Homo sapiens: one gene and its partners. The protein of the gene in region 1 interacts with the protein of each later gene in a biochemical or structural test. Each region holds a gene or a part of one and is shown in the gene's direction. Other genes may lie near its edges.

Region 1 (7,025 bases):
CACTGAAGAACATTCAGGATTATTTTGGCTTGTTTTTACCCTTATCACTCAAGGGCTAAGCTGTTTAAAATGCAACATAAACATTTGACCCAGTTGAATGCTGGGATACTTGGAAAAATAAACCTGTTACTGTTTCTGTACTAAAGGCTTATCTTTTAAAGATATGTGGTGTTTTTTTAGCGCAGTGGTGCGATCTTGGCTCACTGCGACCTCTGCCTCCTGGGTTTAAGCATTCTCCTGCCTCAGCCTCCTGAGTAGCTGGGACTACAGGCGCCTGCCACCACGCCTAGCCAACTTTTATGTTTTTAGTAGAGACGGGATTTCACCATATTAGCCAGGCTGGTCTTGAACTCCTGACCTTGTGATCTACCCGCCTTGGCCTTGCAAAGTGCTGGGATTACAGGCGTGAGCCACTGTGCCTGGCTGATATGTGGTGTTTTGTGATTATAAATTGTAGTGGAGTTCCTTAGTTTTGTTAAAGTCTTGTCAGTAGTTGTAAAAACATCAGCCAGTTGTGGTGGCTCAGGCCTGTAAGCCCAGCACTTTGGGAGGCCGAGGCTGGTGAATTGCTAGAGCTCAGGAGTTTGAGACCAGCCTGGGCAACATGGTGAAAACCTGTCCCTACAAAAAATACACACACACAAAAAGAAAAAAATCAGCAGGGTATGGTGTAGTATGCCTGTAGTCCCAGCTGCTTGGGAGGCTGAGGTGAAAGGCTCACCTGAGCCCAGGGAGATTGAGGCTGCAGTGAGCCATGTTCATGCCACTGTACTCCAGTGTTGGTGATGGAGTGAGACCCTGTCTCAAAAAAAAAAAGTGTGCCTTCAATAGAAGGCTTGAACGTATTTTATGGGATTTGGTTTAGCTGAAAAAAACAGTGAGAAGCAGATTAAGCTGGTAATTTCTGACAAAAAGTATCTAAAAGATGAAGTGAAGAATGTTAAACATCAAGTATTATATTACAGTTGCTCTTAGACTAGTAGCTTTTAGTTTATAACATGTCATTTGTTTGCTCTGAAGATTAAGCAAGTTCATACTTCTTGGAAGTTAAATTTGACTTTTCCAGAAGCACTGGATTATTTACGAAATAAAAAATATAATTGATAACTTTAAACTACTATTTCAGGTAGTCTATTACTAGTAAATGTATGATTCTACATTTAAATTTCAGGTAAATCTTTGTTAGTAACCTACTGCCTAAAAAAATGTTACATGAGGGAGTACTTTTGTTTGCATGTTAGGATCATAATAGGCCATACATAATAATCTTGAGCTTGGGAGGAGCTTGTTAGCCAAACAGCATGCCTTAATGTTGACTTGCAGAAGACAATTTTAAATATTGCCTTTGAAAGGCAGTGGATAATGTGACAGTGAGGGGGTTTATGAAACCATAAAATTGAGCTTTTTGACTTAGTTTTTGTTTTTAAGTTGTTCAGATCTTGGGAGTCATTTCTTCAAAACAAATGACTATGAGGTGGAAAATTACTTACCTTGAATAAATTAATTGGAAAATCAGAGAACACTGGGTTTATTTAGGATGAGGTTGTTTGGTATGTGTATGGGAGGGTAGAATTCCTAATTGCTCATCTGACTGGGTTCAAAATGTAATACTAGATATTTGTGTTGCAATTCAGTTGGTACTTTTGGTATAGGGCTAACTTATCTTGCGTGTAATTTTTTTTTTTTTTTTTTGAGATGAAATCTGGTGCTGTTGCCCAGGCTGGAGTGCAGTGGTGTGATCTTGGCTCACTACAACCTCCGTCTCCCAGGTTCAAGGGATTCTCATGCCTCAGCCTCCCGAGTAGCTGGGATTACAGGCGCCGGCCACCTTGCCTGGCTAATTTTTGTATTTTTAGTAGAGACGAGGTTTCACCATGTTGGCCAGGCTGGTCTTGAACTCCTGACCTCAAGTGATCCACCTGCCTCGGCTTCCCAAAGTGCTGGCATTACAGGCTCGCTCAGGCATCTTGCCTTGTAATTCTCATGATAGTAATGGCTATTTTTTTCTTGCCTTAGAGTTGTAAGTAAAAATTCCTTAATTACACATTAAGGTTTGATCTTTAATTTTACAATGTTTGAGTCATTTTGTTACTTCTTTTCTCCCAGAATGACTTGCGTAGCTCTAAATGATTTTAGTTAATTTCACATCTGTTTGCCTTTCTTCTAAAATGACCCCTAGAATCTCAGCTTAACTAAGGAAAATGTCAAGTGGGTGTTGTTTCTTTGTTAGTGGTTTTGGCCTAGACTATCTAAAGTTTGGCAAATTACTCACAAAGTATGTTAATTGGCATCACATTCCAATCAGTGTACATAGCATTTTTTGAGGAACACTTGACACACGGTTTTATTTTTAGACCAGATTCTAAGGGGTTTTACTGGGTGGGGCTTAACAATCCTAAAGCTAGTTTACGGTTTTAAAATCTTTATGATTTAGAGGTTGTTTACATTTTTTGTTAATAAATGGGAAGCAGCAGGCAGTGGCAGTCAATTTTGTTTGTTTCTTTTTTTGTTTTTTTTGAGACGGAGTTTCGTTCTTGTTGCCCAGGCTGGAGTGCAGTGGCATGATCTTTCCTCACCACAGCCTCTGCCTCCTGGGTTCAAGCGATTCTCCTGCCTCAGCCTCCTGAGTAGCTGGGATTACAGGCATGCGCCACCACACCTGGCTAATTTTGTATTTTTAGTAGAGACAGGGTTTCACTGTGTTGGTCATGCTGGTCTTGAACTCCCTAACTCAGGTGATCTGCCTGCCTCAGCCTCCCAAAGTGCTGGGATTACAGGCGTGAGCCACCACGCCCAGCCCTCACATAACTTTTATGATATTATGTTCTTATAATTGTTCCATTATTAATTATAATTAATCTCTCACTGTGCCTAATTTATATGTTAAACTTGATCATGGGTATGTATGTACAGGAAAAAACATAGTGTATACAGTATAGTATACTGTTCTTGCTTTCAGGCATTCATTGGTAGTCTTGGAACATATTCCAAGTGGATATGGAAGCACTACTATGTGATGGAATGTTACTCAGTAATAAAAAGAAAGGATGTACTGGTGTATACTACAACATTGGAAACATATTAAGTAAAAGAAACCATGCAGGAAAGACCACATATTGAATTATTCCATTTATATGTAATGTCCAGAATAGGAAAATCCTTAGTGACAGAAAGTAGATCAGGGGCTGAGGGATGTAGGGAATGGTCAGTGACTGTGATAGGGTTTTTTTTTGTTTTGTTTTGTTTTGTTTTGTTTTTTTTTTGGGTGATAAAAGTGTTCTACAATTATGGAGATGGATCCACAACTGTGAATATAATAAAAGCCATTTTATTGTGTACTTTTTTTTTTTTGAGATGTTTTGCTCTTGTTGCCCAGGCTGGAGTGCAGTGGTGCACAATCTCAGCTCACCGCAACCTCTGCCTTGGGTTCAAGCGATTCTCCTGCCTCAGCCTCCTGAGTAGCTGGGGTTACAGGCATGCACCACCATGCCCGACTAATTTTGTATTTTTAGTAGAGATGGGGTTTCTCCATGATAGTGAGACTGGTCTCGAACTCCCGACCTCAGGTAATCTGCCCACCTCGGCCTCCCAAAGTGCTGGGATTTACAGGTGTGAGCCACTGCGCCTGGCCCCTGCCTGGAAATTCTTAAGAATTAAATATTATTTTCTTTGAGTAAGTAATAATGTCAGATGTCACAAAATTTAAAGGATATAGAAAGTTATGTTGTGCATAGTTATTCTACGTTCTCCTTTGTTCTCTAGCTACCCAGCTTCCTTTCACAGAGGGAAATGTGAATTCTTATGTATCCTATTTTGTGACGACACAAAAATATTTAAGGGTAGATGTGCTGGCCTTACTTTCTTGCTCAAATCTTCCAGGCTCTCCCTGGCTACCAGACTAAGTATATACAATTCTTGCTTCTGTGTCTTGCTCACATGGCTTTCTCATAGTAATAGTATGTTTAGTGGAAATCAAAAGCCAGTATTTTTAGGCCCCTGTAGGTGCAGGCCAGTGCACTTGGTGCAGCATAAGGCAAGTTCCTACCTTCAAGGACCTTATCTAATTGAGAGAGGCTGACATTTCCTTACTTTTATCTATTCCTCTTTTTTTTTTTTTTCCCCGAGATGGAGTTTCACTCTTATCACAAAGGCTGGCGTACAGTGGCGTGATGTTGGTTCACTGCAACCTCTGTCTCCCGGGTTCAAGTGATTCTCCTGTCTCAGCTTCCCAAGTAGCAGGGATTACAGGCATCTGCCACCACGCCCGGCTAAATTTTGTATTTTTAGTAGAGATGGGGTTTCATGATGTTGGCCAGACTGGTCTTGAACTCCTGACTGCAGATGATCCACCTGTCTCAGCCTCCCAGAATGCTGGGATTACAGGTGTGAGCCACCGCAGTGGCCAAGTTGAATTTCTTGTATAGATGTCTTATGTCTCAGTTTAAAAATGAGGCATGTCTTACTCTTGCCTATATATTTCCAGTGGGGCATGTCTTATCCTTTTTTATATATCTCCAGTTCTCAAAACCTTGTCTTACACAGCAAACATTAATCAGAGGTTAATCACTTATGGATTTAGTTTCACTCTACTGCCATCTCTCCAAAATGCTTACAGTAAAGAGGCTACACTTACTAAATTCAAACTTAGAACTTTGTAACTTAGGACCTGTCTGTTGGAGGAGGTAAGTTGCTTAAGCTTCTCCCTCTATTGGGCATTATATGTAGAGTGCTCTAGGTTCTGCCTGCTAGCTCCTTGATGACATTTGCCTGCTTTAGCAGGACACTGACTCTTCAGCTCAAGCAGCTGTTACCATGCTGGCTATTTCCTTTTGCATTCATAGGTTTTAGATATGGAAGAAAGTTATACCCAGAGAGAATGGGGGGATAAATGATAATCTTCTACCATTTTTGACCTTAGTCTGGTCCAGCATTATAGTGTGATTTTGAGAGGAGAGATTGTGATTTCCCTGGCTAGTATTATCTAGTATTGCCTGACAATGCAAAATGGACCCCTAGGCTGTCTTATGTAAGTTGGAAGGGGGCGGATTGGGGGTGGGGTGTGTGTGTGTGTATCTACAATCCAGTGACATTTAACAACATTCACAATGTCTTAAAACCATCGCCACTACTCGTTTCCAGAACCTTTTTGTTACCTCAAACAGAAACAGTACTCATTAAGCAAGAACTCCTCATTCCTCCCTATGCCCAGTTCCTCGTAACCCCTATTCTACTTTCTCTCTATGAATTTGCCTATTCCAGGTACCTCATGTAAGGGGAGTCATACACTATCTGGCCTTTTTTGTCTGGCTTATTTTACTTAGCACATTTTTGAGGTTTATCCATGTGGTGGTGGCATGTATCTGTATTTTATTCCTTTTTATGGCTGAATAATATTTCATTGTATGAATATATCATTTTGTTTATCTCCTCATCAGTGATGGACACTTGGATTATTTCCACCTTTTGGTTGTTGTAAATAATGCTGCAGTGAACATTGGTGTACAAATATCTGTTGGAGCCCCTGCTTTCAGTGCCTTAGGGTAATGCACAGGAGTAGAATTACTGGATCATATGGTAATTCTGTGTTTACTTTTTGAGGAACTGCCAAACTGTTTTGCACAGTGACTGCACCATTTTACATTTCCCACCAGCAAAGCACAAGGGTTCCAGTTTTGCCACATCTTTTCCAACACTTGTTATTTTTTCTTTTTTAATTTTTAAAGTAACAATCTTGGGCTGGGCACGGTGGCTCATGCCTGTAATCCCAGCACTTTGGGAGGCCGAGGCGGGCGGATCACCTGAGGTCAGGAGTTCGAGACCAGCCTGGCCAACATGGTGAAACCCCGTCTCTACTAAAAGTACAAAAAAAATTCGCTGGGCTTGTTGGCGCATGCCTGTAATCCCAGCTACTTGGGAGGTTGAGGCAGGAGAATCGCTTGAACTCGGGAGGCAGAGGTTGCAGTGAGCTGAGATTGCGCCATTGCACTCCACAAGAGTGAGACTTCGTCTCAAAAAATAAATAAATAAAATAACAACCCTAATGACTGTGAAGTGGTTGTAGGCTTTTTGCATTTTAAAAAATTATTATTTTTACTATTTTAGAGATGGCGGGGGGGGGGTCTCACTATGTTTACCAGGTTGGTCTCGAACTCCTGGCCTCCATTGATCCTCCCATTTTAGCCTCCTAAAGTACTGGGATTACAGGCTTGAGCCACTGCGCCCAGCCCTCCTTTTCTTCTTATTGCTACTTAGATGTAATGGGCAAACCAGAACCTTTGAATTTGGCTATATTTGGATCTGATGGGTTTTTTCCTCCCTCTTAAACTTGTGTATAATGTTGTTCAAAGGGATACATTATGTACACAATTAATGACATCTTTTTAAAAAGAACACTTTCTTTCATCCTTGTGAGGTGTAAGAAGAAAAATAAGCAAAAAAAAAAATGAATAAAGTTTTTCTATAAGTTGATACACACAGTTGTAGTTACTTTATACTCATACCCTTTTTTTGTGTTGTGAGTGACACAGTCTCACTCCATTGCCCAGGCTGGAGTGCAGTGGTGCGATCTCCACTCACCGTAGCCTTGACCTCCCAGGCACAAGCCATCTTCCCTCCTGAACCTGCTGAGTAGCTGGGACTACAGGTGTGTGCCACCACACTCAGCTAATTTTTGTATTTTTTGTAGAGATGGGGTTTTGCCATGTTGCCCAGGCTGATGTCGAAGTGCTGAGCTCAAGTGATTCTCCCGCCTTGGCCTCCCAAAATGCTGGGATTATAGGCATGAGCCACTGTGCCTGGCCTCTCATACTTTTTTATTCTATAATGTATTTAGGGCCAGCCTCTGTGGCTCATGCCTATAATCCCAGCACTTTGGGAGGCCAAGGAGGGAGGATTGCTTGAGGCCAGGAGTTCAAAACCAGCCTGGGCATCATAGTGAGACCCCATCTCTAAAACCAAAAAAACTAGTCAGGCATGTGGTATGCGCCTGTAGTCCCAGCTACTTGGTAGGCTGAGGAGAGAGGATT
Region 2 (7,025 bases), on another chromosome or scaffold:
GTGGTCAGCACTCACCTTGGTGAGAAGCACCACTGGAGCCAAGGCCACAGGGATGATGGGAAGAGAGTTCCAGGCAGAGAGAAGGGCAGATGGTAAGGCCTCGAGGGCAACACCTGCTCCTGGCTAGGGTGGGCCTAGGGGAGGGGGTTTAGGAAAGGGTATTTGGAGACCTAAAGTTGAAGGTCATTCTAAGGACTCTGGCATTGCCTTTGAGTAAAAACCTGGAAAGGATTTGAGCAGAGGCAGCATGGTCAGATTTAGACATTCAGAGAGTCACCAGGGAGGTGGTGAGAAGTAGCTGATCCCTGGATTTATTTTTAAAGCAGAACTGGCAGGATCTGCTGATGGACTGGATGTGGGGTGCGAGGGAAAGAGAGGAGTCAGGATGATGCCAAGGAATTTTAAAAAAACTATTAGGCTGGGCGCGGTGGCTCACGCCTATAATCCCAGCACTTTGGTAGTTCGAGGTGGGCAGATCATGAGGTCAGGAGATAGAGACCATTCTGGCTAACACGGTGAACCCCGTCTCCACTAAAAATACAAAAAATTCTCTGGGCGTGGTGGTGGGCGCCTGTAGTCCCAGCTACTCTGGAGGCTGAGGCAGGAGAATGGCGTGAGCCCGGGAGGCGGAGCTTGCAGTGAGCAGAGATTGCACCACTGCACTCCAGCCTGGGTGACAGAGCAAGATTCCGTCTCAAAAAAAAAATTATTATTGGCCGGGCGTGGTGGCTCACACCTGTAATCCCAGCACATCGGGAGGCTGAGGCAGGCAGATCACTTGAGGTCAGGAGTTCAAGAACAGCCTGGCCAACTTGGTGAAATCCTGTCTCTACTACAAATACACAAATTAGCTGGATGTGGTGGTGGGCGCCTGTAATCCCAGCTACCTGAGAGGCTGAGGCAGGAGAATCACTTGAACCCAGGAGGTGGAGGTCGCAGTGAGCTGAAATCCTGCCACTGCACTCCAGCCTGGGTGACAGAGCAAGAGTCCGTCTCAAAAAACAAAAAATAAATAAAAATAAAATAAATTAGGCCAGGCGCGGTGGCTCACGCCTGTAATCCCAGCACTTTGGGAGGCCGAGGCGGGCGGATCACGAGGTCAGGAGATCAAGACCATCCTGGCTAACACGGTGAAACCCCGTCTCTACTAAAAATACAAAAAATTAGCCGGGCGTGGTGGTGGGTGCCTATAGTCCCAGCTACTCGGGAGGCTGAGGCAGGAGAATGGCATGAACCCGGGAGGCAGAGCTTGCAGTGAGCCGAGATGGTGCCACTGCACTCCAGCCTGGGCGACAGAGCAAGACTCCGTCTCAAAAAAAAAAATTATTATTATTATTATTATTATTATTTTATTTTATTTTTGACATGGAGTCTTGCTCTGTCGCCCAGGCTGGAGTGCAGTGGCACCATCTCAGCTCACTGCAAGCTCTGCCTCCCGGGTTCACGCCATTCTCCTGCCTCAGCCTCCAGAGTAGCTCGGACTACAGCCTCCCGCCACCATGCCCAGCTAATTTTTTTGTGTGTTTTTAGTAGAGATGGGGTTTCACCATGTTAGCCAGGATGGTCTCGATCTCCTGACCTTGTGATCCGCCCGCCTTGGCCTCCCAAAGTGCTGGGATTACAGGCGTGAGCCACCGCGCCTGGCCAAATTATTATTAATTTTAGAGACAAGGTCTTGCTATGTTGGCCAGGCTGGTCTTGAGCTCCTGGCCCCAAGTGATCCTCCCACCTTGGCCTCACAAAGTGCTGGGATTACAGGCATGAGCCACAGTGCCCAGCCAACACCAAGGAATCTGGCTTGAGCACCCGGTAGGATGAAGTTGCTTTTAATGGAGAAGAAACACTGAAGGGTGAGGGAGGATCTGGAGGCTACCCTAGAGGGTGGGATAGAGGGGGATTTTTTTTTTTTTTTTTTTTTTGAGATAGAGTCTTACTCTGTCACCCAGGCTGGAGTGCAGTGGCACGATCTCGGCTCACTGCAACTTCCACCTCCTGGGTTCATGCCATTCTCCTGCCTGAGCCTCCCCAGTAGCTGGGATTACAGGCATGCACCATGCCCAGCTAATTTTTGTGTTTTTAGTGGAGACGGGGGTTTCACCATGTTGGCCAGGCTGGTCTCGAATTCCTGACCTCGTGATCCACCCGCCTCAGCCTCCCAAAATGCTGGGATTACAGGCATGAGCCACCGCGTCTGGCCGCTAGAGGTGGCTTTTAAGCATCTGGTGGGATTTTTAGCAGGGTGCTAGTGGGAGCTGGCAGGGACTTGGAGTCTGAACCAGAGTTGTGCTTGTCTCAGTCCAGTTAGGGGTAGGGGCTTCAGGTGTGTGCAAAGGAAGGAATGGTAGATGTGGGGTCCAAGCTGGCTGAGCTTCAGGGAAGGGAGCAAGCCCTGGGAAGCCGCAGCATCGTTGGAGTTGGGGTCCCGGGGGCATGATCCACACAGGTTGGGTCAGCTGGTGGGAAGCTTGGGATGGAGTTATTTGATGGTGACAAGGCCTAGGTTATGTCCCTGGGAATGAGTCTGAGGGGAGAGTGGGACAAGATCATGGTAGAAGGAGTAGCAAGGTACAGAAAGGAGACAGGGTGCTGGTGGAGTGGCAGAGGACAGGAGTAACATTCTGCACAGGCCAGGGACGACACCTCCCCCCAGCCCCAGCTGCAGACCCGTAGGAAAGAGGGCTGCGGGAGAAGACAGCTGCCAGGTGAGGACAGAGCTGGATTTCTTAACCTTTTGATTTAGTTTTCAGTGTCTCCAAAAGCAAGTGGTTTCCCAGAAAAGATCAGCAAGTGCCAGTGCCCCGCCAGAGCCACGGGGCCTCTGCCCTCTCTACCTGCGCAGAGCAACTCACACTTGGTTCGGTCACTCCTCATAGTCCCTGCCACCAGGCCCCCCTGCTGGATGGCTGAGGTGTCCCCAGGGCAGGGACTGCAGCCACCTTGTGCTGTGACAGCCCACACAGCCCAGTGTCTGAAACAGGTGTGGACAGTGGAGAGGCAGAAAGAAGCAGCCCAGTGCTAGCCCCTGGGCCAGACTGCAGGGTTCAAACGTGGCTCTACCCTTCCTAGCAGGTTGAGCTTGAGCAGGTTAATTAACTCCATCTGCCTGAGTTTCCTCATCTGTAAACGGGAATAGAACTAGTCCCACCTCGCAGGGCTGTGGCGAGGACCTGATGAGTTAATATAGGAAAAGTGCTTGGAAACAGTGCCTGGCGCAGAGGAGGGGCTAAGTGTTTGCGGCTCTTATTATTAGAACTGCCATTGTTATTATTTATGTATATATATATTTATATATAAATATATATATATAATTTTTTTTTCCAAGATGGAGCCTCACTCTGTCGCCCAGGCTGGAGTGCAGTGGTGCAATCTCGCCTCGCAGCAACCTCTACCTCCCAGGTTCAAGTGATTTTCTTGCCTTTATGTACATTCTTGGCTTTATATATTTATAAAGCCTCAAATTTCTGGGCTCCAGCCATCCTCCCACCTCAGCTTCCTAAGTAGCTGGGACTACAGGCGCACGCCACCATGCCTGGCTAATTTTTTTATTTTAATTTTTGTAGAGACAAGGGTCTTTCTGTGTTGCTCAGGCTGGTCTCGAACTCCTGGCCTCAAGCAGTCCTTTTGCCTTGGCCTCCCAAAGTGTTGGGATTACAGGCATGAGCCACCACATTGGGCCTATATTTTTAAGTTATGGACAAAAATCCAAAGAACTATATTTTGTAACGTGAACATTCTATGAAATTCAAATTTCAAGGTCCCTAAAGAAAGTGTTAGTGGAACACAGCAAGGTGCAGTGTATTCATTTACACATTGATTATGGTTTCCTTTCAGCTCTGGCCACAAAGGTGAGTGGTTGTCACAGAGACCACGTGGCCCACTGAACCCCCTTTATAGAAAACATTTTCAGCTAACTTAGGAAAAGGGAAAAGAAAGTGAACAAACATTTGCCAGCCAGCCTTTCATACCTGTAATCCCAGCACTCTGGGAGGCCAAGGCAGGAGGATCACTTGAGCTCAGGAGTTCGAGACCAGCCTGGGCAAGATGGCAAGACACTTCTCTAAAAATTTTTTAAATTAAAAAATTAGCCGGGCATGGTGATGCCTGTAGTCCAAGCTACTCAGGAGGCTGAGGTGGGAAGATCGATTGCGCCTAGGATTTTGAGGCTGCAGTAAGCTGAGATCGTGCCACCCCACTCCAGTCTGGGTGACAGAGAGAGACCCTGTCGCTGTTTTTTAAAAACAAAAAGGAAACATTTGCCAACTTTAGAGTACTTTCTGATTTTATGAGCTCTGAGCAAGGTTGGGGGTGTTCTCTGCAGGCCTGAAGGGGCTTCTGTACCGGAAGGCTATAGTCAAGGCTGAGGCCTACAGGTGCCGGAGGCGGACAGGCTGCGAGTGTCTGCCCAGGGTGGGGTGGCAGCACTGGCCACTGTGCTGGCCACTGACGTCAGCCTCCCCCGGCAGCAGATTGTGTGTGGTCGGCATGTGGTAGGGGCAGGATCCAAACCCAGCCCTTGCCTGATGGCAGAGCTTCACTGCTCCAAACGGTCTGGAACACCACTGTTTTAATTAAGTGTGCAATTCAGTGTGCAAGTGTCTTGTAATTAAGTGTGCCTCTGTTTCCTCATCTATAAAACAGGGAGAACTTCGTATTCTCCTTCTTGGGAATCTGAGGACTCTGAAAATCCCAGTGCAGGGATGCTCGCGGAAGCATCAGCAGGGATGTCCGCCCCAGCCGCTGACTCAGAAGCCCAACACGCAGAGAATGTAAAGCTAGAGGTGCCATGCTGGGGCCTGGGGCACTTCTAGCCACAGCCACTACCCTCCACTTCCACACCCAGCTCCGGGCCAGGCTCTAGGCGGATGGCAAGAGTGGGCAGGCCTGGGCACCCACCCACGTTCACACCCAAGGAGGAGCCACACCCCTTCCCTTCCCCAGAGAAGGGAGAGTCTGGCCCAGGCCCTGCCCCAGCCCTCTCCTTCCCCCAGGGAATTCACAGACACTCCCCCAGGGTTTTTCCCTGTAAATAGAACACTTTTTAAAAATTCAATTTAGGGCTGGGCACCGTGGCTCACGCCTGTAATCCCAGCACTTTGGGGGGCCGAGGCACTTGGATTGCCTGAGGTCAGGAGTTAAAGACCAGCCCGACCAACATGGTGAAACCCCGTCTCTACTAAAAATACAAAAATTAGCTGGGCATGGTGGCGGGCACCTGTAATCCCAGCTACCCAGGAGGCTGAGGCAGGAGAATCATTTGAACCTGGTGAGCAGAGGTTGCAGTGAGCCAAGATCACATCACTGTACTCCAGCCTGGGTGACAAAGCAAGACTCCCTCTAAAAAAAAAAAAATACATATATATATATATACACACACACACACACAAATATATACACACACACACACATAAATATATGTATATTTGTATTTACATATATATAATTCAATTTACACAAATGGGTATCATCTTGATAACAACTAGCTTGGCTAAGTCCACGAATTTGGTGAAAAACTCCCACCCCATAGGACAGGTTCCTGGCAGAACTGGTGCTAGCAGAAGGCCCAAAGGGGCCTTCCCCAGCCTAGGCCTCCAAGGCAGCCCAAGGTACAGCTGGAAGGAGCCTGGGGCATGACAGCTAAGCACACAGCCCCTGAAGCCACATTGGTTGGGTTGGGATCCCAGCTCTGCTACCTACTAGATCAGTGACCTTGGGCAAGTTACCTATGCTCTCTGCCTTAGTTTCTTCCTCTGTAAAATGGCAACCATGAGGAACCTCCCTGATAGGGTGTGGCAAGGATCAAATGAATGAATACACAGGGAGGGCTTCCGACCATCCACCATACCTGCCCAGTGTCTTCTGCTTGTTCTGATCCCTGGGCAAGGGGCAGTGCCCAGGCCAAGTGCCTGGGTGCAAGTCACTCACCTTCCACCTGTGGGGCCTTGTGTCCGGCAAGCGTAGTGGTCCTGTGGCCCCACTCAGAGCTAGTGGAGGAGAACAGCTGCCGTTTCCTGCGTATTTAGGTGGCTAAGCAGGCTGTCCCAGCCACACGGCCTCAGGCAAGTTCTTAACCTCTGCCTCTGTTTCCTCATCTGTACAACAGGGAGAGCTGGATATTCACCTGGCTGGGACTCTCAGAGGCCTCAGGCTATGAGGGGCCGGTAGGGGGCTTTCCTGCTCTCATTTGTTGTCATGGCGATCCTGGCAGATGGGGAACTGCCCCCATTTCACAGAAGACACTGGGGCCCCAAAGGGTTGGAGAATGGGCTAAGGTCAGAGCAGGAATGTGGCCAGGGCCTGGCCCACCTAGCTGACCCCTGCTCCACAGTCACCGCACCACAGAACTGGAAATTACTCTGCAGACAGGCCTGTTCCGTCAGTGCCCCTTCTGTTCCCGGCTCTCCTGCCCCTATCCGAAATCCTTCAGCCTCCCAAGGTGCTGGGATTATAGGCATGAGCCGCCACGCCTGGCTGTCATCTGTAATCTTTACTCCTGACCTAGTATGCCTCTCCCCACTGCCACCTCACTCCTCCAGGGTCTTGAGGTATCCCCACCTGACCTGGGGGCAGCTCTGGGCTTTGGTGATGCTCAGAATGCCCAGGCACTCTGATCACAGCCTATCTTACCCTAGGCCTTTCCGGATTCCGTCCTCTCGTTCCCTTACTCGCTTTTTTTTTTTTTTTTTTTTTTTGAGACAAAGTCTCACTCTGTCTCCCAGACTGCCAGACTGGAGTGCAATGGTGAGATCTCAGCTCACTGCAACCTCCGCCTCCCAGGTTCAAGTGATTCTTGTGCCTTAACCTCCCTAGTAGCTGGGACTACAGGCCCACACCACCATGCCTGGCTAGTTTCTTTTTTTTTTTGAGACAGAGTCTCACTCTGCCACCCAGGCTGGAGTGCAGTGGTGCAATCTCGGCTCACTGCAACCTCTGCCTCCTGGGTTCAAGTGATTCTCCCGCCTCAGCCTCCTGAGTAGCTGGGATTACAGGCTCGCGCCACCACACCTGGCTAATTTTTGTGTTTTTAG
Region 3 (7,025 bases), on another chromosome or scaffold:
ATGCCTGGTTGATTTTTGTACTTTTTGGTAGAGACAGGGTTTCACCATGTTGCCCAGGCTGGTCTCAAACTGCTGAGCTCAGGCAATCCACCTGCCTCAGCCTCACAAAGTGCTGGGATTGTAGGTGTGAGCCACCAAGCCTGGCCTAAGACCTTGTCTCTTAAAAAAAAAAATTTCAAAGTTTCCAGAAGCGGACAAATGAATCCCTTTTCTCAGCCCCAGCTCGCCGGCTCTCCTGCCCAGAGACAGCTGCTGTTAGTGGTTTCTTCTAATGAGTTGTATGACATTGAGATTCTGTGAGCCTCAGTTTCCCTAACTGTAAGGCAGGAGGGTAGTGACATCTGTGGGCCCTGCTTGCTGGGGTGGCTTCTCCCCTGCCCAGCCTGCTACAGCCCCTCCCCGATAGGAGGTGTAAAGCCCAGGCTGGGCAGGCTGCCGCCCCCGCCAACTCCAAGAGGCCTTTTTTAGCTGCGGCCTCCCTGGCAGTTGTTCAGAGGACACAGGGGAGACTGGTGGCAGCCCAGCAGCGGATTGCAGGGTGGTGGGCAGGCTCCAGGGTGACACAGGCCCATCGTGGAGAAAGGGAGTTGGAGAGGCCACAGCTGCTTTTTTTTTTTTTTTTTTTTTTTTTAAGACGGAGTCTCACTCTGTTGCCCAGACAGGAGTGCAGTGGTGCCATCTCGGCTCACTGTAACCTCCACCTCCCAGGTTCAAGCAATTCTCCTGCCTCAGCCTCCCGAGTAGCTGGGACTACAGGTGCGCGCCACCATGCCCGGCTAATTTTTGTATTTTTTAAGTAGAGATGGGGTTTCACCATGTTGGCCAGGCTGGTCCCGAACTCCTGACCTCATGATCTGCCCGCCTGGCCTCCCAAAGTGTTGGGATTACAGGCATGAGCCACCACACCCAGCAACTTTTTTTTTTTAAGAGATGGAATCTCACTATGTTGCCTAGGCTGGTCTCAAATTCCTGAGCTCAAGTGATCCTCCCACCTCGGCCTCCCAAAGTGCTAGGATTATAGGCATGGGTCACTGTGCCCAGCCTGCAGCTGCTGTTTATCTCATGAGGTATAGCTTTTTTTTTTTTTTTTTTTTTTTTTCAGACAGGGTCATGCTCTGTCGCCCAGGCTGGAGTGCAGTGGGGCGATCTCAGCTCACTACAACTTCTGCCTCGGGTTCAAGCGATTCTGCCTCAGCCTCTGGAGTAGCTGGGATTGCAGGCGCCTGCCACCACGCCTGGCTAATTTTTGTGTTCTTAGGAGAGACGGGGTTTCACCATGTTGGCCAGGCTGGTTTCAAACTCCTGACCTCAGGTGATCCACCCGCTTCGGCCTCCCAAAGTGTTGGGATTACAGGAGTGAGCCACCACGCTCGACCACGTAGGCCTTCTTGACCCCTTATACATATAGGGGAATCCGAGGCTCAGGCTGGCTGTGTCAGTCCCCTGGGGTATTAGAGTAGGGGCCAGCTCTGCCTGGCCCTGCCTTAGAACCTGGGGACACAGCCTCAGATAAGGCACAGGAATGAGTCAGCAGACCATTCAGGTGGCAGTGACAAGGACGGAGATGGTAACAGTGGGACACACCTACTGAGGGCTGTTTTGGAAGCATTTTCCATAGAGTTAGTCATTCAGTTCTCACGGCGATCCTGTGAGACTCCATTTCACAGAGGGGAAGACCAAGGCTGGGAAAGGTTTCAGTGACATGGCCAAAGTTCCATCTCCCGTCAGTGGCACAGCCGGGTGCTGTGACCATGTAGTAACAACCACTCCCAGTTATTGAGCGTGTACTCTGGGCCAGAAATTAAACTAAGCATTTGAAGGACATTTCCTTTTTGAGGCCCCAGAGTGGTCCCCAGAGAGAGAGAGAGATTGTTCTCTTGCACAGATGGTAATGACCCTGGCCAGTACAGGAAGGGTGCGTGCTGAGGGCCCACATGGCTCGGGACATTTTACTCTAATCATCTCCTTAGTTTCTTCCAATATGAGCTTGTGCAGTCAGCATTGTTGACTGTTTGACAGATGAGGAAACTGAGGTTACAGGAGGTTAGGGGATGGCCCGGGATACCCAGCCGGTACATGGTGGCTGTGGGCTAGGACCCAGGGGCCGTTGCCCCAAGGCTGTCCTCCAGCACCCTCACCACATCGTCAGATGGTCACAGGAGGTCCTTTAGGGATCAGTGGTGCCTCAGGCAGGGAGCATTTGGGGAAGGCTCTGTTGAAGCTGAGTTTTGGGTGCAAAAGCAGGTAAGGGAACCGCACATGCAGAGGCCAAGAGGCAAGACAGAGCCCGTACTTTCGGGGAACGATGAGGGCCAGTATCTGCCTGGGACCCAGGACCAGGATGCCAGGATCAGAAGTCCCATCTGAATTCAGACCCCCCAAGATGTAGTGGGGAGGACTCTGGTCACGTGGTCAAATGCATGGGCTTCACAGGCCTCCCTGGTGGCAGCTGTGCCTGGATTGGAGAGGGTCAGCAATTGAAGGTGGTGGCACGTTTCAGGGTTTCAGGGTTTGATTAGTGGCTCTGGATAGAGCAGCCTCCACTGAGGTTCAGGAGAGGTGATGGTGGAGCCACGCAGGGGTCTCAGGAGAGGCCTGTACAATCCGATGGGGCCCAGATGGAGGTCTGAGGGAGACAGGGAGTGAGGCGGGGACCAGGAGCCTGAGGAGATGAGGCACTGTTATAAGGAGAAAGAGGAGTGCCTGGGGAGTGACATCTGGGGCTGGGGTGAGCGGGAAGCAGGTAGACACCAAGCTGGGGCTCAGGAGGGCATGCTGGGCTGGAGACAGAGCTAAGAGGGCCTTGGCAGTGATCCTGGGGCAAGGTTATGGGTGGAACAAAGAAACATCTAGAAGGGGCCCTGGTGCAGTGGCTCATGCCTGTAATCCCAGCACTTTGGGAGGCCAAGGTGGGTGGATCACTTGAGGTCAGGAGTTCAAGACCAGCCAACATGGAGAAACCCCGTCTCTATTAAAAATACAAAATTACCCAGGCGTGGTGGCGCGTGCCTGTAATCCCAGCTACTAAGGAGGCTGAGGCAGGAAAATTGCTTGAACACGGGAGGCAGAGGTTGCAGTGAGCCAAGATCACGCCACTGCACTCCAGCCTGGGCGACTCCGTCTCAAAAAAAAAAAAAAAAAAAAAAAGCCAGGCTTGGTGGTTTGTGTGCACCTGTAGTCCCAGCTACTTGGGGTTGAGGCAGGTTGAGCCTGGGAGATCAAGGCTGCAGTGAGCCATTATCACACCACTGCACTCTAGTCTGCATGACAACAAGACCTTGTTCAAACAAAACTGAACAAAATAAAAACAAAAAAAAAAACAAGCATTTGCTGAGCCCGTGCTTTGCACCAGGCCACGTTCCTGGTTCTGGGAACAAAATGGCGAACACGTTCCCATATTTAGAGAGCAGGGCTTCATTCATTGGAGGGGGGCAGTACCCAAAACGTGATAAATAATTGTCATATGATGTTAGTGGTTGCTGATGTTGAGGAGGCAGGGAATTCCAGACAGGGGCAGCGGGAAGTTGCCATCATCAGGAAGGTGGTTGGGGAAGGGGTCCTCGCTAAGGCAACATGGAGCCCAGATGGCACGGGTGCCATGGAGTCAGCTGTGGGGGGCTCTGAAGGAAAAGCATTCCAAGTAGTTGGAACAGCCAGTGCGAAGGCCTTGAGGTTCAAGAAAAAAGTGGGCTCCGCAGAGTGCAGTAGCTCCCGCCTGTAGTCCCAGCACTTTGGGAGGCCGAGAGGGAAGGATCGCTTGAACCCAGGACTTCAAGACCAGCCTGGGCAACATGGCAAACCCCATCTTTACTGAAAATACAAAAATTAGCTGGGCGTGCTGGTGCACACCTGTAGTCCCAGCTACTTGGGAGACTGAGGTGGGAGGATCGCCTGAGCCCAGGGAGGTCGAGGCTGCAGTATGTCATCATTGGGCCACTGCACTCTGACCTGGACGACAGAGTGAGACCCTGTTTTTTGTTTTGTTTTGTTTTGTTTTCTTAAACAAAAAAAATGGCCTCAAGAAAAGGTGAGAAAAGTGAGGGGCTGGTGTAGCTGGAAGGAAGAGTTACCAGGGGAGGTGCCGAGGCAGATTGTGTAGGGCCCATGTAGGCTGTGGTGACAACTTGGGTTCTGCTGTGAGATGGGAGCCGCCAGGGTTCTGAGCAGAGGACGGAGGGACCTGACCCCACTTGGGTGTGCGCTGGCACCTGTGGGCGCAGGGGCGGAAGCTGGGAGACCAGGGCACGGGAGGTGGACGCGTACTTTTTCCTGGGGCCATCTCCGGTGCAGGGATTGGGTATGGGGCGGGGGTAAGGGACAGACGACTCCCCAGAGTTGATAGGCCGTCCCTGCCCGCAGGCCCGGGTGGAACGCATGGAGCAGTTCCAGAAGGAGAAGGAGGAACTGGACAGGGGCTGCCGCGAGTGCAAGCGCAAGGTGGCCGAGTGCCAGAGGAAACTGAAGGAGCTGGAGGTGGCCGAGGGCGGCAAGGCAGAGCTGGAGCGCCTGCAGGCCGAGGCACAGCAGCTGCGCAAGGAGGAGCGGAGCTGGGAGCAGAAGCTGGAGGAGATGCGCAAGAAGGAGAAGAGCATGCCCTGGAACGTGGACACGCTCAGCAAAGACGGCTTCAGCAAGGTGTGCGGGGCGGGCGGGGCGGGCAGTGCGCATGCGCAGCCAGAGAGCCTGCAACCAGGACGCATGCGCACCCAATGCCTGGTCAGGGGAGGACCCCGGTGGTGTAGTTGAAGAGTGTGGTGGGGGGCGGGGAGCTGAGGGATGGACGGGGGCCACGTGGGAGGGGGGACAGGCTTGGGGGGCCGGGCGGATGAAACACCCCACCGGTCCCCTCCTCTGATCTGCCCCAAGGCCCATGCCCACGCTCCCGCCACCTTGATGCTCATGGCTTCGTCACCACCTCCGCCGTGGATGGGATGGGCGCTGCGACCACGGCCCGCCCGGCCGCGCTCGAGGCGCTCCGCAGCCTTGCCCCAGCCCACTCCCCCTCTCACCCTACCACAGAGCATGGTAAATACCAAGCCCGAGAAGACGGAGGAGGACTCAGAGGAGGTGAGGGAGCAGAAACACAAGACCTTCGTGGAAAAATACGAGAAACAGATCAAGCACTTTGGTGAGTGGGGCTTGTGGGTTATGGGGGGCAAGGTCGAGGCAGGCCCTTTGCCTCCAGGGCCCTCCAGCACCTTGCCAGCATCTTCCCACAGGCATGCTTCGCCGCTGGGATGACAGCCAAAAGTACCTGTCAGACAACGTCCACCTGGTGTGCGAGGAGACAGCCAATTACCTGGTCATTTGGTGCATTGACCTAGAGGTGGAGGAGGTGAGTGGAGCTTTCCCCGGGACTGTGAAAAGGCGCTGCCATGAGGCCGCCACTTGGTGACGCTGTGCCTGTTCTTCCTGGCAGAAATGTGCACTCATGGAGCAGGTGGCCCACCAGACAATCGTCATGCAATTTATCCTGGAGCTGGCCAAGAGCCTAAAGGTGGACCCCCGGGCCTGCTTCCGGCAGTTCTTCACTAAGATTAAGGTAGGGTCCCTGAGCTGCCAGGTGGCTGGAGGCCCCCTCCCCAGGGAACCAGCCCACAATGCTCTAGGTAAGGCCGACTCCTCTCCACTGGGACTCAAGCCCCTCCAGTCACCGCATCCTAGATCAGGAGAGGGTGGGGCCAGGGAGGAGGAGAGAAGTGGGCAGATTCTGCCAGACTTTAAAAGTGGAGGCCGGGCGCAGTGGCTCACGCCTGTAATCCCAGCACTTTGGGAGGCTGAGGTGGGCAGATCACCTGAGGTTGGAAGTTTGAGACCAGCCTAACATGGAGAAACCTCATCTCTACTGAAAATACAAAATTAGCCGGGCATGGTGGTGTGTGCCTGTAATCCCAGCTACTCGGGGGGCTGAGGCAGGAGAATCGCTTGAACCTGGGAGGCAGAGGTTGCTGTGAGCCGAGATCGTGCCATTGCACTTCAGCCTAGGCAACAAGAGCGAAATTCCATCTCAAAAATAAATAAATAAATAAATTAATTAATTAAATAAAAGTGGAGGTCAGGCCAGGCTTGGTGACTGAGTACTATAGTCCCAACTATTTGGGAGGCTGAGGCAGGAGGATCACTTGAGCTCAGGAGTTTGAGCTGTGGTTTGCCACTGCACTGCAGCCTGGGTGACAGAGCAAAACTGCATTACAAAAAAATGTGGGAGCAGTAGGATGTGCTGAAGGTACCCAGGTGAATATGTGGGTAAAGGACAAAGGTGAGGGTGCCTCTAGGGTTTTGGGTTTTAGTTCATTTTTGAGACAGAGTCTTGCTCTGTCACCAAGGCTGGAATGCAGTGGCGTGATCTCAGCTCACTGCAACCCCTGCCTCCCGGGTTCAAGCAATTCTAGTGCTTCAGCCTCCCAAGTAGCTGGGATTACAGGTGCCTGCCAGCCTCAGGGTTTTTTTGTTGTTGTTGTTTTGTTTTTTTTGAGATGGAGTCTCACTCTGTTGCCCAGGCTGGAGTGCAGTAGCACGATCTCGGCTCACTGCAACCTCCGCCTCCTGGGTTCAAGCGATCCTCCAGCCTCAACCTCCTGAGTAGCTGGGACTACAGGCATGTGCCACCATGCCCGGTTAATTTTTTGTATTTTAGTAGAGACGGGGTTTCACCGTGTTAGCCAGGATGTTTTCGAACTCCTGACCTCGTGATCCGCCCGCCTCGGCCTCCCAAAGTGCTGGGATTACAGGCGTGAGCCACCGCGCCCGGCCTAGCCTCTAGGATTTTTAACCTGCGTACCTGGAGGAACAGGGCTATCCTTACCGAGATTAGGGAGACCAAGGACAAGGCAGGCTGGGAGGTGGCCATGTTGAGTTAGAGGTGCCCATGCAGGGACACTGAGGACATGAGTGTCTCAGATCTGCAGTAGAGCAGGGCTCCCAAGCAGGTGGTCTTTGGCAAATGCCAGATGAGGTCCCCGGCGGGGGAGCCCAGGCCTTGGGGAGCCCTTCATGTAGGTCAGGAATAGACTTGGGGAACCGTG
Region 4 (6,859 bases), on another chromosome or scaffold:
GGGAGCCTGGGTTTTGGTATCTTTTAAAAGCTCCCCTAGGTGATTCTAATGCGCCGCCAGCATTAGGAACTGCTGTTCTAGAAAAGCAGCCTGACGTGTGCTTTTTTTCCTATTGGAATAATTTCTCTTGGACCCCAGCTCAGCCTCTCATTAGCTGCCTGGTTTTGAACAGTCTCCCTGAACCTCAGTTTCCCCTTCTGTAAGTGGGGCTGTTAGGAGGACTAAGTGAAACTCTGCTTCACTGTGTCTGTCCACCCTTCCCTGTGTCCAAGGAGAGCTTGTACGTTTCTTCTGCTCTGAGACTGTTTGGCTGAACACAATTCAATAAGCATTTATTAAAAACTTATAATGTGTGAGATGCTGCCCTTAATGATGTGAGAATAAAAGGATGAATCAGGCTCGGTCCCCACTCAAAAGAGCTCACATGCTAATGGGGGTGACGAGGCATGTGTCCAAAATATGAAGCAGGAAGTAACACCGGCTACGGAGGAAGTAATCATGGTGAAGGCCATTATGTGTGAAGCACTTCGCAGTTTATTTTAATCCTCCCAACAACTCCACGAGGCAGCTACTATTGTAACACCCACTTTTACAGGCCAAGAAACTGAGGCTTAAAGAGAGGACCAGTTACCCACAGCACAAGAGCCAGGCTTTGGTGCTGTGGGAGCCCAGAGGAGGAGATTCACACCATTAGAAAGGCTGGGAGTAAGTTTTGTGGGGAGAAGTGTGGACACAGTGCTTTGAAGAATGTGTAGGAGTTTGATGGGTAAATACAGAGAAAAGGGTATCCCTGATAAGAAACCAGCATACACAAGCTCAGAGGAGGGATAGCTTCTCTTCTTTAGAGACCCGGAAGTGATTTGATTTTGCTGGAATGGAGGTTGAGTGCAGGGCATGGTGGGAATCACGTCCTGGTTGGAGGCCTTGTTCGCTAGGATAAGGAATTTAGATTTTTAGACTTTATATCTTTTTTTTTTTTTTGAGACAGAGTCTTGCTCCGTCGCCCAGGCTAGAGCACAGTGACACGATCTCGGCTCACTGCAACCTCTGCCTCCTGGATACAAGCAATTCTCATGTCCCAGCCTCCCGAGTAGCTGGAATTATAGGCGCACACCACCACGCCTGGGTAGTTTTTATATTTTTAGTATAAAATTATTATATTTTATATTTTTAGTAGTAGGGTTTTGCTATGTTGGCCAGGCTGGTCTCAAACTATTGGCCTCAAGTGATCCTCCCATCTTGGCCTCCCAAAGTGCTGGGATTATAGGCGTGAGCCACCACACCCAGCCCAAGATTTTATATCTTAAGCAATGGGGAGCCCTTGAAAACTCTTGAGCAGGAGGTGGCAGTTTTAGAACAGGGCTAAAATGGTCACAGGTTATATGGGAGAGAGAGGGTGACAGGGAGCCCAGGGACGAAGGGGGCAGCTATGACAAAGGGTCTGATGAGGGATGATAAAGCAAGTGGGTGGGGAGGGGGGAAGGGGAAAATAGGCACATGTGAGAAGTGTGCTGTTGCTACACAAAGCTTCCTTGGGCATCAGTTGATCCCTTATGTGTATTTGCTTATTGACTGAGCCCTACCATACCAGGAGTGGGGGAGGGCAGGAGCAGAAGACAGAGGCTGGGGCAAGTGGACCTCCCAGGGTTCTCACTCCACATGCAGCTCCCCTCGCGACTGGGATATGGTCAGTGGGACATGACCCATTCTGTTGAACAACTCTGCAGAAGCAGGGAGCAATTGGTTCTTGGGCCGTCTGCTACATTTCCGTGATGGAGGTGGCAGAGCTGGCCCAGCGACCTGAGTCTTCCTGACCCCAGCCTTCCAGGTGAAGCGTGCCACCCTGCTCACCTCCCACTGCCAAGTTCACTGCCAGCTCAAGGCTCACAGCCTGTGTGTGTCATGCCCAGCACAAACCCTCCCGGGCTGAAGCCAGTTCCCAGAGGCAAAGTCTGGATGTGGAAAATGCACCAGGCTGCAATCCTGCCACTTGCCACCAGGTGACTTTGGGCACATCCCCTTAGCCCCTCTGTGGCCTAAATTGGGGCATTAAACACAATCAGGTAGTACAGGTACTGCACCCTCCACCCCCACCTGCCCCATCCTCTCTGGTTAACTTTCCTGGAGAATCTCAAGATGTTACAGAGACAAGCAAAGCAAGTCACTTTCCATATTCAAAGTCCCAGGCCATTTTAGTACTTCTGTCATTCTGTGGACCCATCAATATCATACCCATTTTAGAGATGGCACAACCAGGACCCAGAGACTTTTCATGACGGCCCAGGGTCAGATATCTAGGTAGTTACGGAGACAGGACTTGAACGCCAGTCTCTCAGCCAATGGAGCTGACCCCTCAGGTGCCCTCCCAGACCCCTGCGTCCTCTCATGAGGTAGGGAGGCCAGATCTGGGTTGGGGGTGAGGCTGGCAGACATCCCTGAGGTCCAGGGATCTGGAACTGAGGGACACAGACACAGCATCCCATCCCTTTGCTGTATCACACAACGAGAACATTCTCTTTTAAGCCTCCTGATATGTGAAGGAGAAAGTCTCTGTTAGGTGCTAATGGGTATTTAACACCTCTCCAAACCTTGCCAATCTCCCTTTTTCACTGAGGGCACACATCTCAAGCCTTGGCAGGCCACGGTTTCCAGCTGGAATTTAATAACCTTGCTTTGTTTTCACTGTGCTTATTTTAACTCTTACTTTCTATTTATGGCAAGTGATACTGATTTCCCATTTAAGGCAGTGATATAATGATTCTCTAAAAAAACGTGTTTAAGGGGTGGGGAAAGTGGATCTGATATTTTAAAAAATATATTAAGTAATAAGTGGTGTGGAGATATGGCCCAGTGAGAAGGCCCGATGTCTGGCCTAGGTCAAGCCCCTCATTTAAAGGTGGGGAGGGAGAATGCAGGCAGGAGACGCAATGCTCAAGGCACCTGGTGTGTCCCCGTCGGCCGTGGTCTCTGAGACTCGCATGCCTCGAAGACCTCTGGCTACTAAGCCTAGGTGACTCCCCGCCCCTCTGGGCGACACGTGCATGGCCCATGTGCCAGTCCGCAGGGTCCCGTGGGCACCGTGAGCTCGGGAGGGAGGCGGCGGCTGGGACAGGCAGGTTGGACACCTGGGAGGGCACCCGGGGACTTCCGCGAAGGAGGAGGGCGCTGGAACCGTGGCGCGCTCGACCTGGCCGGGCGCAAGCCGCTGGAGACCCCGGCCGAGTGGGCAGGCGGCCGGACCCCATGCGGGTCACCTGCGGCCAGGCCGGGCGTGCGTGTGAGCGCGTGCGCAGACGTCAGCCTCCGAGGCCCGGGCCGCCTTCTGGGCAAGGTGCGCGCGCCCAGCGGCCCCGGCCCCACGCGCCCGGACACGCGGAACCGCAGACCGCGGCGCCCCGGAGGCCGCGAAAGGGATGGGCGGGGCCGGGCCGCGGGACCCGCCTCCCATTGGCCGGGCGCCGGGGCGAGGCGGGGCGCCGGGGTGGGGCGGGGCGAGCGGGCTCTGGGGGGCAGACGCTGGCGCTGGGCGGCGGGAGGCGCGGCTCGCGGGGGGCCGAAGGAGCAGGTGGGCGACGCTCGCAGGGGCGCGGGAGGGTGCCGCTGGGACCGTCATCAGGAGCCTGGGGTTCTGCCACCTTTCGGAGGGATCAGCGACCTCTTCGCCCTGCGGGTGACAGTGGGGCATCTGCCTGCGAGAGGGGGAAGGAGGGAGAACCCAGGGCCACACACAAAGTTCTCCTCATCTGGGGACAGGAGGAGGTGAAGGAGGAGGAGCCGGGTTGATGCTAACTTGGAGCTGCGAAACCTTGGGGCGGCGTTCAAGGCCCCCTCCCACACGCGCGCAGAGCAGAGCGCCCTGCTCCTCCTTCAGCTGCTGGCGTCGCCGCGCGGGGAGAAAGAAGCCGTCCCTCCGGCGCTGGGAGAGCTGCAGAGCCGCGGGCAGAGAAGGAGGCCGCGGCCGAGCCCGGCAGCCCGATACCCCCCATCCGAGCGACCCCCTTTGGGGCAGGCGGAGAAGGTGGCATAGGCGACCAGGAGGGTTCGCCCACCTGGGACACGCACCCACAGTCACCTCCAAAGGACCCCCCCTCCCCAAGTCTCTAGGAGCTGCTCCTTCATCACTGGAGTCGCCCCTACCTCTCTGCCCCCAGCCCGAGAGCCCCAGGCGGGGACCCCCGGATCGGACGTCCCCAAGCCTCCGGGCACCTGGCTCAGCAGGAGGCCCCCGGCTCGGGGCAGGGCAGGGCCGGCGGCGGCGAGCCGGAGCCCGCCCCCTGCCCGGGCCCCGCCGAGCCCTCGGAGCCCACCCATGGGGCACCTGCCCCTTGCGCCTCCTTGCCCGGCCGCGCCCAGCCCGGCGTCCCGAGCAGCGCAGGGGAGGATCCCCGCGCAGTGACCCGGGAGCCACCACAGACTCTGGGAGGCTCGGCGGCTGGAGCAGCAGGCAGCTCCCCGCAGCTCCCGGCGCTTCCAGGCAGCTCTCTGAGCCGTGCCAGAGGCCCGGCCCGCCATTCCCAGGTAGGAGACGCCCCAACAGAGCTGGGCATCTGGGGGAAGTGGAGCAGCCGGGAAGAAAGGGTAGAGGCTTGGAGGAGGAAAGCTCAGTGATTCCTTAGATGACCAGAGAAAGTGAAATTGATTGAGCACCTACTATGTGCCGGGATCGTCTGGCAACTTTGCATACCTAGAGAGAATTAAATTCGTTGAGCACCTACTGTATGTGTCAAACTGAGTGCTATACCCTTGACTTAATCCCAGGAAAGAAAGATTTATTGAGCTTCTACTATGTGCTAGTTTTGGTGCCACAGGCTTTGCATTTAAAGAGCTAGAGTAATAGCCCATTTAAATAGGAGGAAACGGGGGCTCAGGGAAGACGAGTCAACTACCACAAACACTCCTGTCCCTCTTCTGGAGCTGGCTGCAGCCTGCATTACCTGGAGGTGGGGAAGGAAGATTAAGAAGCTCCTTCGTTATCCAGAGTTCTTGAGCTTTTTCTGGGTTGGTGCAGAGTGAGTTTCCTGGATGATTCCCTTCCCAGGAGGGGTTTCCTGTAACTTAGCTGTCTTGGAGGGCCCGGAAGGCAGCTCTGGAGGCCTCTCTGTGCCCTCCCCTCCCCTTGTCCCCAGCACCAGGAGGATGACAGGGGATGTTGTCCAAGACCTCATGGAAGGTGGGAAGCCAGGCTGGGAGGGAGCAGCCAGGTCAGGAGCCAGTGAATCAAGCCTCCTGTGGTGTCAGAGACAAGATGGGGTCCCTGCAAGACCTGCGCCTGCATTCCAGTCCAGCCTCACCAGGCTGCTCTAGGCAGCCCCACGACTGCCAAGATAAAGTGCCACGAAGAAAAGAACCCAGCATGTGTTCAGGTTTGCTGCGGGTCAAGAGCTGGGTCAGCCTCCAGACTTATTGGAAACCCAGGGCCACACAGGGGGTTTATGTCTTACCATTAACAGAGGAATAACCTGAGCCCCAGGAAGCCAAGTCATTTGCCCAGGGCTGCCGGGCTGGTGAGAGGCAGAGTTGGCCTGCCAGAAGTGGATGCCTGCCTACCTTCTACCACCTGAGCTGCCAAGGGTGGTGGGGTTGGCTTTGCCAAGCTCCCGGACTCTCAGAGTGGCAGCTGGAAGCCAGTGATGGCAATGTGCGTGTCCAAAGAGGCTGAGTGTGCACTGATGGAGGAGGCATGGGGGTGTGGAGGAGGGGCAGTGCAGTGAAACAGGCTCTGGGGCATACACCGGGAGGACACGTCCAGACTCTTGTCCTGCTGCCTGTGCCCGTGTGACCCCTTCATCTTTCAGGCAGGCCCTGGGAGAGAGGCTCAAGGGAGAAGTGGTGAATCCACAGGTGCACTTGCTCAGAGGTGGCTGGCAGGGTTAGGGGAGAATCCTGGGAGGTGCCTGCCCCCTTTCCGCTCCGCTGCCTGCAGGGAGAGAGGGAGTGAGAATATAGTATGTCTCGGCGTCATCCCCCCGCCTGATGCCAGCTGAGGCTTCACTGAGACAGACAGTGTTTTGGAAAAGACCAGTTTTGGCTGGGGGTGGGTTTTCATAGAGTTAAGAGCCCAGACTTTGAAGCCAAACAGCCTGGTTCTGATCCCAGCCCAGCTAGTCATCTGCTGTGTGAACTGGGGCAAGTGACTTAACCTCTCTGAGCATCAGTGTCCCCATCAGTCAAGTGGGCTGATGGATGCCTTCCTGGCTGTGGTTACTGTGCCCCCAGGATGGCGTCCCCTCATCTCTGCTCTGGGAACTTTCTGGCTTCCACCTGTCCTCAGAATGGCCCTGTGATGGGGTCAGTAGTCACAGTATGTGCATTCAGATACCTGTGCCGCTAGGGGGTCTCCGTTGAATTTCCTGCCTCTCTGAGCCTCCTCTCTCTGATTCCTTACTTCCCCTCTCTGATTCCCTGCCTCCTCTCTCTGACTTCCTGAAATCCATTCAGTCACTGATATTGGACTCTAAATTCCCAAAGGGCTCTTCAAACTCATCCCTGTCTGCTCCTCGCTGTATGAGGTCAGCCTGGCTGAGGATGGAGAAGGGAGAACAGGCTGCAGAGGAGAGATGTGCCTACGAGGGTGCCCATGGTGCCACCTCTGGGGGAAGAGAGGGAAGAAAGATGTGGAGGCAGGAGGCGGAGCCCACAGAGGCACTGTCCCCTGGCGTCCAGGTGTCCAGATGTCTCACACAGCCCCACGTGGCTCAGGCCATGTGAAGAATCAGTCTTCTCTCAGAGATAAAAACCACAGAGGATTTTTTTTCTCTTTTTCCCCACCCTGATTCCCTGTCTCTTATTTCTGACTCCTTGCCTCCTCTATCTGTCACCTTGCCTCCTCTCTCTGACTCTTTGCCTCCTCTCTGACTCC

The links.
Region 2: of the proteins of RAF1 (region 1) and BAD, one has a biochemical effect on the other in vitro, tested with the Homo sapiens proteins (2 studies listed by BioGRID).
Region 3: the proteins of RAF1 (region 1) and CDC37 form a complex in vitro, tested with the Homo sapiens proteins (2 studies listed by BioGRID, with this or other methods).
Region 4: the proteins of RAF1 (region 1) and RASD2 form a complex in vitro, tested with the Homo sapiens proteins (2 studies listed by BioGRID).

What each region holds. Positions count from the first base shown.
Region 1 is NC_000003.12:12,654,095-12,661,119, reverse strand, and holds part of RAF1 (RAF proto-oncogene serine/threonine-protein kinase), read left to right. Parts: intron 1-7,025. UniProt on the Homo sapiens protein: Serine/threonine-protein kinase that acts as a regulatory link between the membrane-associated Ras GTPases and the MAPK/ERK cascade, and this critical regulatory link functions as a switch determining cell fate decisions including proliferation, differentiation, apoptosis, survival and oncogenic transformation.
Region 2 is NC_000011.10:64,274,657-64,281,681, reverse strand, and holds part of BAD (bcl2-associated agonist of cell death), read left to right. Parts: intron 1-7,025. UniProt on the Homo sapiens protein: Promotes cell death. Successfully competes for the binding to Bcl-X(L), Bcl-2 and Bcl-W, thereby affecting the level of heterodimerization of these proteins with BAX. Can reverse the death repressor activity of Bcl-X(L), but not that of Bcl-2.
Region 3 is NC_000019.10:10,393,538-10,400,562, reverse strand, and holds part of CDC37 (hsp90 co-chaperone Cdc37), read left to right. Parts: intron 1-4,359; coding exon 4,360-4,635; intron 4,636-5,019; coding exon 5,020-5,128; intron 5,129-5,219; coding exon 5,220-5,335; intron 5,336-5,419; coding exon 5,420-5,542; intron 5,543-7,025. UniProt on the Homo sapiens protein: Co-chaperone that binds to numerous kinases and promotes their interaction with the Hsp90 complex, resulting in stabilization and promotion of their activity. Inhibits HSP90AA1 ATPase activity.
Region 4 is NC_000022.11:35,536,983-35,543,841, forward strand, and holds the start of RASD2 (GTP-binding protein Rhes precursor), read left to right. Parts: upstream 1-3,848; 5' UTR 3,849-4,518; intron 4,519-4,524; exon of another isoform or gene 4,525-5,638; intron 5,639-6,859. UniProt on the Homo sapiens protein: GTPase signaling protein that binds to and hydrolyzes GTP. Regulates signaling pathways involving G-proteins-coupled receptor and heterotrimeric proteins such as GNB1, GNB2 and GNB3.